2 separate regions of the Homo sapiens genome follow, and region 1 is linked to region 2. A link means that fine-mapping ties the variant in region 2 to the expression of a gene that starts in the linked region. Tissue or cell type: whole blood. Region 2 holds a variant in brackets; the other region holds the start of a gene. All regions are shown on one strand. Distances are between the middles of the regions.

Region 1 (5,000 bases), 220 kb before region 2:
GGGGTTGATCCCTCCCGGACTCCACTGCGTTAATCCCTCAGAGGGGTGGGGGTGGGGAGCTACGGGCCACCTCTCAGCAGAGTTGTGGTTTCTGACTGGAGGAAATGCTCTACAGGAGCCCGGACAGAGTAGGTCAGGCCCAAGCCGCACCTTGGAGGACCTTAAGAGGCGGGAAGAGGGAGAGGGAGAGATTTCTGACCTGGCTCCTTAACTAGGGAAGGGCATCAGAATTGCTTGAGGACACTCATTGATGCCACACCCATCCCTGGAGGGCTGACATTGTGTTTAGAGATCTCCCCAGTGACTTCTGCCCTGCCTGGGAACCATGCAGCCAAGCCTGGGATGTCCCCCTTGCCTGCATTGGGGTCTGCCCCTGAGGCTTCCTTAATCCACCCCGATTTGAATGCTTGTCTTAAGGAACTCAGTAAAAGAGACATGCACATATACAAGGCTATACAAGGTGACCAGTGCTGTCTGTCGGGGGGAGCTGAGTGGCTGGGGGTGGAACCTGCTTGCACTGAGGGAAGGGAGGATAAGAGAATCTGGCCTACTTAGGGCCTCAGCAGAGAGCGGATAAGGCCGGGATGGTGGGTGGGTCCCCATTTCCCTTTGAACACAGGGAGGCAGTTGACTTGCCATCTGCCTTGCAGGATGGCATCCAGCCCATGTGGGAGGACAGCAGGAATAAACGGGGTGGCCGCTGGCTGGTCAGCCTGGCCAAGCAGCAGCGCCACATTGAGCTGGACCGGCTGTGGCTGGAGACGGTGAGTTGGAGGAGGAGGGTCCTCAGGGGAAGAGACGGGCTGTGTGGGTCTCATGGTGGCAGTGGTCTCAAGGATGGCAGGCCAGTCCCTATGTCCCAGCCGGTGATCTCACAACCCCCTACTTCGGGTCCAGCTGCTGTGTCTGATCGGGGAGAGCTTTGAGGAACACAGCAGAGAGGTATGTGGGGCCGTCGTCAACATCCGCACCAAGGGGGACAAGATCGCTGTGTGGACGAGGGAGGCGGAAAACCAGGCGGGCGTGCTGCACGTTGGGTGAGGAGGGTCTCTGGCACAGGGTGGGGACTTGGGTCTCTGCTAGAGGGAAGGTGGGTGGAGGGGGCTTGGCCTGCATGGGAGACCTCTGAAAGTCTCCATAGCCTCCCTCCCTTCTGCCTTGCCCACCTGTATGGAAGGTCTGGCGTTCAGATTTCTAACTTTCTCTTACGGCAGTGCAGCTCTCCTTTTGCATTAAGGGGGTCATATTTTGGGTTTCCACATGGGTAAGACACAACAGGTGTGGCTGTGGCCAGAATGAGGGTAGGAGTCTGGTGGCCTAAGTTATCTCTAGGACCCTCTGATGACTACCTGTGTCTCTTTTCCTCTGTGTCCCCCGCACCTGCAGGCGTGTATACAAAGAGCGCCTGGGCCTCTCCCCAAAGACCATCATTGGGTACCAGGCCCATGCAGACACAGCCACCAAGAGCAACTCCCTAGCCAAGAACAAGTTTGTGGTGTGAGGGGGGCCTTGGCACCCCTCCTATGTAATGGGACAGCCGCCACTGAGCCTCATTACTTTGGGGGATGGGGCGGGACTGGGGATCAGACAGCCTAGTTCTTACCTGTCCTCAAGTGAACAGGAATGCAAACACTCTTTAACATGAGTTGGGGCCTGAGCCTTAGGGGCTAGATGGGGGTAGTGGTGGCAGTCTGAGGACCTAGCTTGTCCTGGGGCCACAGGACAGCAGCAGGGTGGAAAAAACTCCTGAGGGTGGGGTGAGTCATGGCGGGGAAGGAGGGCTCTATGGTAGGCGGAGAAACCCATAGTCCAGCGTTTACTGTTTCCACCCAGGAAGGAGGTGAGGTGGCCTGAGAGACAGACTCTTCCATGGGTGGTGGGCTCAAGGGCACAGACATTCTGGAGGGTGAACGCCATCATTTGTACAGAGGGATACGTGGGTTGCTGAGGACTGAGAGAGCCTTGCAAGGCCGCTCCCCTTCTCCCCAGCTGTGACCAGGGCTGTCTGGGCCTTGCCTGCCTCAGGGCCAGACTGAAGTGGAGGTGGAGGGATGCTGGGCTAGGCCTCACCAAGGTTCTGGTAGAAGTGGTGGAAGTGGATAAACTTGATAATAAAAGCTTAAGCATCTTTCTGTTCCTGTTTTAAATAAATACTTCTGAACAAAGTTGGAATTATTTTTAAGAGGGCTTCAAACTGGAGTAAGATTCAGGTTCCCCCAAACTTTGATCTGCCTCTGTCCTGTCTTACAGGGGCTCATGTGAGATCACTGGGTACCAAGGAGCCTGACCGGGACCCTGGCCAGTATGGAGGACAGGGGGTGTGGCTGGGGAAACTCAGCCACCAAGGGGGCTTGAGCCAGGTTCCGGGGGGCATATGCCCCTGGCAGGGCGCAGCCGGCGTGGCACCAAGGCCCAGGCCCTCGTTTGGCCTGAGTTTGAGTCAGGATAAGTAGAGCTGGATTTCCGCTGGGTGAAGGTGAGCCTGATGCGACTCCACAATGACAAAACGTCCTGCACGTGTTAAAAACTCAATCCGGACCAGCTTCCCCATTCGCCTGCCAGAGCAGCAGTTAACCTTCCCCTGGGATGGGCTCCAACAGCAGGCTGGGGATTGGGATGGCGCTGGTACCCAGCAGGGGAAGCAAGGCTTCTACACCCCGGCGGCCTCCGGCGCCATCAGCCGGCGTCCCGGGCGGGTCTGCAGGACGCTGGGAAACGCGGCGGCGGCCTGCGCGGGGGCGGGGCCTGGCCGAAGGCGGGGCTGCGAGGAGGTCCGAATCAGGCTGTGGGGGCGGAGCTCGGGAAGCGGAGCCAGGTCCAGAGGCGGGGCTCAGGCGGGACTGAGTTGATCTATGGGGGCGGAGCCAGGTCAGGAGGCGGGACTCCAAAGGGACTGAGGGCTGTGGGGGCGGGGCCCGGTCCAGAGGCGGGGACAGCAGGGCTCCGGGCAAGGAGGTCTGGATGCTGAGGGCGGTCCCTGAGGGGCGGGCGGGGCCCGACCGGCGCTCTGTGTGGCCGAGGCCATGAAGCCGCAGCCGCCCGGCTAGGCCCCGGGCGGCTCTAGCCCAGGGCGGCCCGCGGGGCGCTGGGCCTGGCTCCCGGCTCCGGTTTCCGGGCCGGCGGGTGGCCGCTCACCATGCCCGGCAAGCACCAGCATTTCCAGGAACCTGAGGTCGGCTGCTGCGGGAAATACTTCCTGTTTGGCTTCAACATTGTCTTCTGGGTGAGCGCGGGGTCTGCGCCTTGCCCTGTGCTGGGGGGTGGTGGGAGAGGGAGATTCAGTCTTTTGCTGGGGGAGACCACTCCCTGCCCCAAGAGTTTGGAGCTCGGGACCATCCCCCCACTTCTGCCACACCCACGCCCACTTCCAGGACCACCCGAGGTAGCTACAGAGGCCCGGATTGCTGGGGGCGGGTCCTAGCGACAGCGTGGGGTCGGGGTTGGGGTAGGGAGTCTCCCTAAATAATCCCGAGGCCTGGTGGAGAAAGGGAAGGTGTTTCCTTGAAGACCCCAGGGGCGTGCTAGGTGCAGGTTGCCCCCTCTCGCCCAGCCCTCCTTCCTACCCTGGGATGTGGGATGCGTGCCAAGCCCCACCCCTGGTTTAGCCGGTAAGGAGATTCTGGCGTGAAGGGAGCCGCCAGGCCCCTTCCCCGGCCTCCTTTCCCTTCCAGTAGTACCTGGGTCAGGTGCCTCACCTTAGGCTCCTGCAGAGTGGGGTGGGTCACAGTCCTCTGCCCACCCCAGTCCCGCACAAGGAGGCTGACCTGCCAGGAGGGGCAGGGAGGGACAATGGCGAGTCCTTGGCGGCTGGGAGAGGATCTCCCCGGTTGAGAGCCTGGGAGCTGGCCTTGGGGAACAGAATTCAACATTCCACAGCTGACAAGCTGAGGCTCCTGGGCGGGTCTGCCCCTACCGGGGAAGGGAGCTACTAGTGCCCCTCCCAGGGTGGCATCTGTCCCCCTGGGCCCTGCCAGGTCATTTTTCCCATCTCTCCAAAGCCGTGGCCCTCTGCAGTCTCTGCTCCTGAGGCCTTGGGTCAAGATGCCAGGCCTTTTCCCTTGTGTTCAGCAAGACTCAGTGGCACTGCCCCCCACCCACGTGTCACCGAGCTCACTGGTGTGGTGGGTGTCCTTGCACTGCAGCGCTAGGCTCTTGAGGGTGTGGGCAGTGTGTGGGAGCACTGGCAAAGAAGTCAGAAGGCCTGGCTGTAGCAGGCCTGGCTGGGACACCTTGGGCAAGTCATCTCTCCTCTCCGGGCCTCAGCTTGCCTGCCTGGGAGACGACGATAAAGAATCTGCCTGTGAGGGCTGTTAGGCAGATACAATGAGTTCAATTTGTTGTATTCTCACAACTGCCTTATTATCTGCATTTTACAGATGGGGAAACTGAAGGAATAGACACAGAGAAATTAAGTCACTTACCTAGGGTCACACAGCCAGAAAGTACAGAGCCAAGGTGACGGCTTAGTGGGCAGAGGGTGGAGGTGAGGCAGAGCTGTGAGCAGAAGTAACCTCAAATACCGAGGGGGAGCAGGCGTGAGAGACCCGGGTTTGTTGCTGGGGCGGAGCGTGGGGTGTTATGTTAAGGTGGCATGGAGAAGCGAGGGCTTCCAGTGATGGGTCTGATCTGGCTTCTGTTCTGGAGACCGCTTGCCTGGCTGCTGTGTGGAGGGTGGATGAGGGGCAGGGCCTGGAGGTTTGGAATGGGGGCAGGGCTGGGGCAAAGCTGGGATGGTGAGGTGGGAAAGGTGAGGGAGGTTGCTGGGAAAGTCAAGAGGCTGAATTGACTGGGCTGGGTCACTTGGGGGCTGGAGGGAGGATTTCAGATTTGGGTTAAGGTGGCCTAAGGGAGGCTGCTTGTGGAACAGGCACAGAGGTTTTCATGTTTAATGTCAGGCAGACCCTGGTGTTGTTCTGTTTGGAAACTGCTTGTGGTTTCCTTTTTTCTTTTTTCTTTTTTTTTTTTGAGACAGAGTTTTGCTCTTGTTGCCCAGGCTGGAG
Region 2 (8,078 bases):
CCCACCCCTGGGTCCCACGTCTGGGTCAGGGCTGGCCGGTGGCTGCCAAGTGACCATGGCGAGCACACAGGTGACTGTACACTTGATGAGCCCAGTGTCTCAGCTGGAGGCTCTGGGGTAAGGGACCCCCTCGGGCCTCAGGTTCCCCGTCAATAAGGTGTCTTGGTCCCACCCCCCAGCGTCGCCTGCATTCCGCCACTTCCTGAGCCTACGACAGACCCCAGCAGAGGTGGTTCAGGGTGGGGTGGGTCTGGGTCTGATGACCTTCATTTTCACGACATGTGAACTGCAAGTGTGACCCCGCTTATGAATGCGGGCTTGGTGTCCATAACAGAGCTGCGGAACATGCGGGGGGCAGTTGCCAGTGGGAGGGCACACAAGGGAAAAAGCCAAGCTGGGGAGAGGCCGGAGTCTGGCAGGTGGGCAGGAGGCAGGCAGGGAGGCCAGAGAGTGAGAGGAGGGGCAGGCGCCCAGGGAGGGCCGGCGACCCAGCAGCGGACAAACTGTCCGGCTATGTCCCAAATGCCCTCCACACCCATCTGCCCCTGAGCTCACAAAGACACAGCTGTTGCACCCCTCAGCTCAGCCAGCCTCCCTCTGCCATCCCTAAGGCACCTGCCAGCTCTGTGCCTCAGTTTCCTTGTTGGCTCTCACCCCCTATGAGATTGCTGTGAGGATGACCGAGCTGAGGGGGTGCAGCCCTTTGCTGTGGAACACGCAGAACCGTGGGGGTACCAACAGCAGCCTACGCTCCCTGAGCACTGTGCTGAGTGCCTCACGCCTGTTTCATTTCATCCTCACAACAGCCTTAAGAACTGGGCACCACGCCCCATTTTGCAGGTGAGGAAACAGGTTCAGGATGGGGTGGATGGACCTGCCTGAAGTTGCAGAGGCCCCTGAACCCTCGGTCCGAGCCTGCCCTCCAGGGCGCCTGCAGGAGCTGGTGCACACACCTCCTGCCGTGAAACCAGGGTCCTGGTGAAGGGCGGACTCCCACCCTGGGGAGAGGGTCCCTGCGCAAGCAGGAGCGAAAGGGGCAGTGGGCCAGGCGTATGTGCCCCTCGGTGGGTAGGGTGGGCCCAGGCCTCCCAGTCTGAAGCCCTGGGTGGGTTTTGGATCACCCGTGGGGAGGGTGGAGGAGCCCAGAGGCCATCCATGTGAGGGGCCTGTGGACATCCCCACAGGCAGCTGTCATCTCCATCTCACAGATAGCAAGCCACTCGCTCCCCAAGGTCACCACTAAGATGAGCAGAATAGATGGTCTGGAAACCCAGGGTTTCCCTCTATGCCCAGGGGCTGCAATTGTGAATGCGCATTGGTGGGGGGATCACTGCAGCCCCAGGGAGGCTGAGGACCTGTTCAAAGGGCAGCTGGGGGTTGTGGGAGCTGAGGGTGACCCCCACCCCATCCTCTCAGGGGACCTGCTGGTTGGGCAGGGATCAGACTACTCTGGGGGTTTTACCTCTGCCAGTGCCTCCAAGCCAATTACCTGTGTAATTAGCAACAAATGACTTGTGGGATGGTTGTGGTTTTCAGTTAAAATTAGAAGGAAACCCACATATTCAGGTCTCCTTGAAGGAGGTGGCCCAGGTATCTCAGATTCCCAGACAGACTCCCGGCTCTCGCCTTGCCCGTGCCCACCCCGCATGTTATTTCTGAGCACCTACTATGTGCAGGGCCAGGGATGGGGCCAACCAGGAAGCAGGGCCCCAGAGGCGGCCACTGGCCAGGGCTGCTCCCTCCCTCGCCCCAGGCAGCTCACCTGCCTGGCCAGGGACCTTCTCACCTTGGCCAGCCTTGCCCTGGACCTCCCGGGCAGGGGCCTGCCTGGCCAGATCCCTGGACTTCTAGGAAGGCAGTCGCCAGGCCACCTCGGTGCTGGGACTCCGCCCAGGTCTCATTTCACCTCACCACGGTCTTCAGGATGGCATGGGCTGCTCCTTCCCTGCTTGTACAGAGGAGGACATGGAGGCCCGGGTGGGGGATGGTCATTGGCCTGAGATTGCCCAGCTGGGACATGGCAGAGCCTGGACTCACTCTCCTCCCATCTGCCCCAACCCACGGTGGAATCGTTTGCTGAGCCGCTGCCTCTACCCTGCCCAGTCTGGCCCCTGGCTCACCTTCCCCCTCTGCCCTGCCGCAGGTGCCCAGCAGAGTGCCACCGTGGCCAACCCAGTGCCTGGTGCCAACCCGGACCTGCTTCCCCACTTCCTGGTGGAGCCCGAGGATGTGTACATCGTCAAGAACAAGCCAGTGCTGCTTGTGTGCAAGGCCGTGCCCGCCACGCAGATCTTCTTCAAGTGCAACGGGGAGTGGGTGCGCCAGGTGGACCACGTGATCGAGCGCAGCACAGACGGGAGCAGTGGTGAGCCGCATGGGGCGCCAGGCAGGGCCAATCCGGGGGAGGCGAGTTTCGGCCCCCCCAGAGGAGCCTGCAGCTGCCCCCAGGATTCCCCACCTGGGACCCCGGAGGCCTTCCCCAGAGGCCACAACCCTCAGCAGTTTGGGGAGAAGGAGGGGGAGAGAGGGGGTCCCTGATGACCAAGGAGCTCCCAGACCTCACATTCAGTGATTGTTTTCTTTGTGCGTCGGTTCATTCGATCAGTCAGGCATTCACTCACACCTGTGAGCACCCACTCCCGTGCTGGGGACAGCCCGCCACCCTCGGAGCCCAAGTTCCCACAGAGAGGCAGACAGCGGGGTGACCTCTCAGCAGGGAGAGAGGCCCCTCAGGGGAGGTGATGTGTTAACTGAGAGAGGCATAAGAACCGGTTAGGGAGTGCAGAAGGGGGAAGTGCATCCCAGGCAGGGGACACAGCCCAGGAAAGCCTGGAGGCAGACGCCGGCATGCCGGTGGTGGGGTCAGCAGTGAGGGTGAGGGTGTGCAGGGGACCAAACTGATGCCACTGTCTTAGGGGATCTCAAGCTGCAGAGCGACATGGCCAGAGCTATATGTGATTCAGGGGCCAGAGTTGGGGCTGATGGAAGCAGCAGGTCTGGAGACACTGAGCAGAGGGGGCCAGCCAGACTCAGCTGGGGGCACAGAGAGAGAGGTTCTAGGGGCAGCGAGCAGACCCAGGAAGCACCTCTTCCATGAGACACCACATTCCCCACCCCCAGCCCTGGCCTTAAGTGGCACTGGGGACGTGGGCAGACAGCCCTTGTCTGGGTTCCGCAACTCCCCCAGAAAGGACTGGCAGAGAGAGAGGCAGGAGCAAACAACAGCTTCTCCTCCTCCCCCTCCTCCCCCTTTTCCCCCTCCCTCTCCTCCTCCCTCCCCTCCTCCCCCTCCCCTCCTCCTTCTTTACCCCCTTCTTCCCTCCTTCCCCTCCTCCCCCTCCTCCTCCTCCCCCTCCTCCTCCCCTCCCCCACTCCTCTCCTACCTTTCCTCCTCCTCCTCACTCATTAGAGCCTGTTTCAGTTTCCTCTCCCTTGGTGCTTTGTGGAGCACCCCACGCATAATGACACCTCAGGGGTAGTCCTGAGCCCCCTCCCACCAAGGCCTCAGCCATCCTGAGACACAGCACACATACCCTGTCGAGGCACAGCCCGTGCGGGACACACAGGCCATTGCCGTGAGGCTCAAGCCACAGTGCAGCTGGGACAAGCAGGTGTCACCCAGGACTCCCACTGATGCCAAGGGCAGGCCGGGGACCTTGGGCCTAGAGAGGTGGCCCAGGAAGGATTCCCAGCGGAGGAGGAACATCCAAGCTCAGGTCTCAAAACCACCTGGAAAGGGCATCTCCCAGGCCTGTAGAATGGAAGGTGCAGAGGCGCAGAACAGCCTTGGGTGGCTCGGGTATGGAGCGAGAGCGAACCCCGGGGCAGGCAGCAGTGGCCAGGAGACTGCGCTAAGGGGCCCCTGGAGGCTGAGACACCAGAGCGGGCTGCGGTCGCACTTGCACTGTAGGAAGACCGTGCTGGGCACAGGGAGACTGGAGGAGGGCAAGGCCCCTGCCAGGGAGAAC[G/A]GTTTGGAAGCTCTGGCAGTGATCTGAGGTGAGCTGAAGAGCCCTGGATTTAGGCAGTGCCATTTAGCCCCAGAACCAGCTTGTCATTTTACGGTTGAGACTGAGGCCTTGGCTCTTACTCATCCAGAGCCCTGCCGGGGCTCCAACCAGCCCTTCTCGTCTGCAGCAGTCACACACCACCCCTCCGTGAGGGTCAGCAGGGACTGCCTCCCTCCCCCAAGTGTCGTCTCAGTGCCTTGGCCTGACTGCAGCTTCTCACCTGCGGTCTTCAGGTGTTCGCTGAGCACCTGCTCTGTGCCATGCCTTGGGTTAGGTACTAGGAGTTATGCTCTCAGGGCAGTGATCCAGCTCTACCTCCTACCCTCAGAGGGAGATAGAGAGGGTTGGCGGCCAATGTAGCCCAACAGAACCCTGGGCACCAACACCTCCCAGGACCAGAGCCTCTCCCGGCCCCAGCGGAGGTGCCAGAGGCCTCCCTGCCCAGCAGCAGGGCCCACCTTGTCTTGCTGGGAGGGTCTGCAGGAGAACCGCAGGCAAGTCCCTCCCCTCCCTGGGCTCAGTTTCTTCATCTGTAAAATGGGGGTGAGGAGACCTCCCCTCCATCCTGCCCCTTGCAGATTGGTCGGGGGAAGCCATGAAATCTCACGTGCCCAGTCAGGACCCAGCACGGGGCCTTTCCTTTCTCCCCACCCCACACCCGGGGCCCAGCGTCCCTTCAGCATAAGTTCTCCCACTGCTGTGGCAGGTCCCCCAGGGAAAGCACAGCCAGAGAGCTGCTCTCCTGCAGCCTGGAAGCTCCAGTCCAGCCCCCTGCTGCTCCCAGCACCCCCTTCCGGGCTCCCCCGCACACCCCTCTGTCTGAAACACCCCTGCCATTATGAGGGCTCAGATCCATGGACTGGCAGGAACCCAGACCCTTGCCTGAATGAGCAGTCGCAGGCCCGGGCCGGCACACACACCGGGAGCCCCTGGCCCACACTCCCCAGCCGGCTCCTGTGGCCCTGTTCTCTTCCTGCCGGGCAGAGAAGCAGAGCTTGGGACACGTCCCACCCGTAACCGCCAGGGTCCTCTTCTGCCCCGAGCATCCGACTCCAGCCTCCCATGGCCGGAACATCTGAACGTTCATTGATCTCATCGATTTCTCAACCCAAAGCCATCGAGTGCTTTGAGGTGAAGAAAAAGGCTTTCCTTACCCACGGCAGATACCACGGCAGTGGCGCCACGCCGCCAAAGACCAAAGACCCCAAACCAGAAACGTTCTGTGGTCAGACAGGTATGGCAGGGCTCGGAGGCCCACCCAGCTCTGCAGCCCACTCATTCATGTGTGGGGCTGGAGGTGGCCGGATGGACACCCAGGAGAGCACCTACTTCCCTCTCGTTTGCCCTCATTCCTCACCCAGAAGGCCAGGGGGCAGGGACCAAGGCCTGAAGTGCTGGAACCCAAACCTGCTAACACTAAAAAAAAGCCTGAAATTTGCAAAACCAAGCACTGGAGTCCGGTCTGGGAGTATAACTTATTTTGTGTTAAACAAACTGATTGGTTATTAGATTGTTTAGAAGCAGATTGCTGAGAAGGTGAGAACCGAAGTGCCAGCTTGGCCTCAGAGCCCCAGCTAGAAACCCTGGGCAGCCCAGGTTCACACACACACCCGCCCAGGCCCACTGGCCCGGGGTCCCTCCCCAGGGCTGGCACCTGCTCACACTTATGGGCAGGTACAGACATAGCTGTACCCAGACACTGCTCCCAGGAACCAGGCTGCCTGATGATCCACAAGAGGAGAGCGCACAGCCCCTCACATCAAAGATGGGGTAGGGCCGGGTCTGCAGCCCCCGCCTCAGGCACTGCCCTCCAGGAGCTTGTGGGGCTGAAGGGCACCCCTCACCAAGGCACTGCGTGGAGCTGGCACATTGAGGACACACTTGGCCCTCACTCATGCAAGTGAGAGGGAGGAGAGGAGGTGGCAGGACAGAAGGGGAGGGAAGGCAAAGGGAGAAGAAAAGGGAGCGCTTAAAGGTAGTGCTGTTCTCCCAAGCTGAGCCGCCTGGGCCATGGGTGAGGCTCCTGAAGGAGGGCCGGGCTCCCCACAGCACCACGGGGGATGGAGGAACCATTAACAGACTTGTCCACCCAAGGGAGAAAAAGTACCCAGTTCAGAATGTTCTGGAGGTCTCCCACCCCTAACCCCCAAGGCAGAGAGGATGAAGGGAGTGGAGGGCCCCTCCCCAGATCTCCTTATCAGATGCCCTAAGTCACATTGAAAGATAGCTGGTGCCCAAGGCCCCTCTCCTATACAAGGACCCTGTGAGCCACCCCCTCGTTCTCAGCCTGCCCACCCCACCCCCTGAGAGTGTCCACACTGGGTGTCTTAGAGAACGGGGCAGGTGGTGCCCAGAACGGAGGGAAGCGGCCCAGCTACCATGATCTCACCAGAGGTGACAGCTCTGCCATCTCCTATGATAGCTGGCCGGCGACAGGGACAAAGTGATAGAAAAATCTGGACACCCAGTGTGAGAGCCCAGAGGCTTGTGAGGAGGGGTCTGGGAAGCAGTCGGAGAAAGTCATGTTAGAGAAATTAAGAGGGAAACAGCCTCCCAGCCTGCCGGCTCAGCTGGGCGGCCGCTCTTCCCGCAATGCAGCCCTAATTGAATTTCGCTGTTAACAATGGAAACACATTGGCTGCCGGCCTCTCTCTCCCTTTCTGATAAGCCAATGACCCGAGGGAAATTGGGGTCAGGAGGAGGAGAAATTGGAAGCAAACAGTCTTTTCTCACTGCTGGGGATGCTGGTTTTGGCTACAGACGGGGCAGGAGGAGGGTTGCTGCCCCCGCTCCTGAGTTGTCAGAGGGTCCTCAGCCTGCCTCAGGCCAGATATGGCAGAAGGTGGGGGGCTGAGTCCAGCCTGGAGCGGAGTCCCCCCAGCTCACCCTAGTTAGGCAGAGCGGGTCCTAGACCCCCAGCTCCCCCTCTGCTGGCTGCTCTCTCACCCTCTTCCAAAGTTTCTCCCTAGTGCATAGGCGCCCCAGCTCACCCTTCGGATGCAGACAGTCCCGGGTCCCCATGGCAAGTCACTTCCCTCTGCATTTCTGTCCAAGGGAGTGGATTAAGACGACATCCCCATCCCGGCACGTGGGAAACCCTAAGTCCCAGGGCGCTAGCATCATACTACATAATCACTGCAATTATATTGTTAATGACTGTTATTATATTATCACGTCAGGATCTATCTGCTAGCCCCCGAGGGAGGGGGCCAGATCCTTCCTCACCTCTTTTACCCACAGAGGTGCAGAGCTCAGCCTGTCTGCCCCACCCCTTCTGCCTGGAGTCTTTGGAGGTCAGACCCTCTGGCCCAAAGCTCTACGGCAGCCCCTTTATGGACATTTCTGTAAGTGACTCCGGGGAGTCAGGCCTCAGGTAACAAAGTATAATGAATGGAAGGTCTACCCTGCCTGCCCGGGGCCTTCAGGAGATAGAAATCAAGCGGCCCTTGGGCCCCCTGGAGTTTCCTCCAGGCTGGAGGTTGCCTTAAAACTTAAAATATAATAATAATAAAATTTAAAAAAAAAAAAACAAAGTCCACTCCCTTGCCAGTCAGCGAGAGTGGCTGAGGGTGGCGCAGGAACCCACACACAGAAGCTCAGGGTGGCCCTGGGGCTCTGACTACCTGCCCCTCCCGCCCCCAGGGCTGCCCACCATGGAGGTCCGCATTAATGTCTCAAGGCAGCAGGTCGAGAAGGTGTTCGGGCTGGAGGAATACTGGTGCCAGTGCGTGGCATGGAGCTCCTCGGGCACCACCAAGAGTCAGAAGGCCTACATCCGCATAGCCTGTGAGTCTAGGGCTGGGCCCTGGGGGAGGGCGCACGGCGGGAGGGTGTCACCAGGAGAGGGGACAGTAGGCTTCCTGGAAGAGGCGGTCCGGTCAGAAAACCTCACAGCCCTGCCTGGATGAGTGGATAAAGTGCCTGTGGACACGGCCCAGCCACCCCATGGCCCCCTGGCCACCTGGCACTTCCTCTGCCATGTGCCACGGCCCCTGCAGGACAAGGGACACAGCCAGCCAGGCTGAGCCTGTGCGAGGCCCTCAGACAGGAGGACACTCTCATTCCTCTTCT

The links. PIP is the estimated chance that this variant, and not a neighbour inherited with it, causes the effect.
Region 1: TSPAN17 starts here. The variant in region 2 is fine-mapped to the expression of TSPAN17 in whole blood (INTERVAL, PIP above 0.99).

Annotation. Positions count from the first base shown.
Region 1 is chr5:176,644,480-176,649,479 of GRCh38, forward strand. It overlaps TSPAN17 (tetraspanin 17), which reads left to right and starts at 3,005. Exons shown (of 9, transcript NM_130465.5): 1 at 3,005-3,223. The coding sequence starts at 3,137. EIF4E1B (eukaryotic translation initiation factor 4E family member 1B) reads left to right here. Exons shown (of 9, transcript NM_001099408.2): 7 at 651-764; 8 at 898-1,037; 9 at 1,387-2,165. The coding sequence ends at 1,501. RefSeq lists enhancers at 1-246, 828-1,338, 1,609-1,903, 4,265-5,000 and a silencer at 2,577-3,236.
Region 2 is chr5:176,860,481-176,868,558 of GRCh38, forward strand. It overlaps UNC5A (unc-5 netrin receptor A), which reads left to right. Exons shown (of 15, transcript NM_133369.3): 2 at 2,144-2,365; 3 at 7,650-7,793. Among named protein-coding and RNA genes, the nearest start is that of HK3, 35 kb to the right of the region's middle. The variant G/A (reference allele first, on the strand shown) is at 3,969.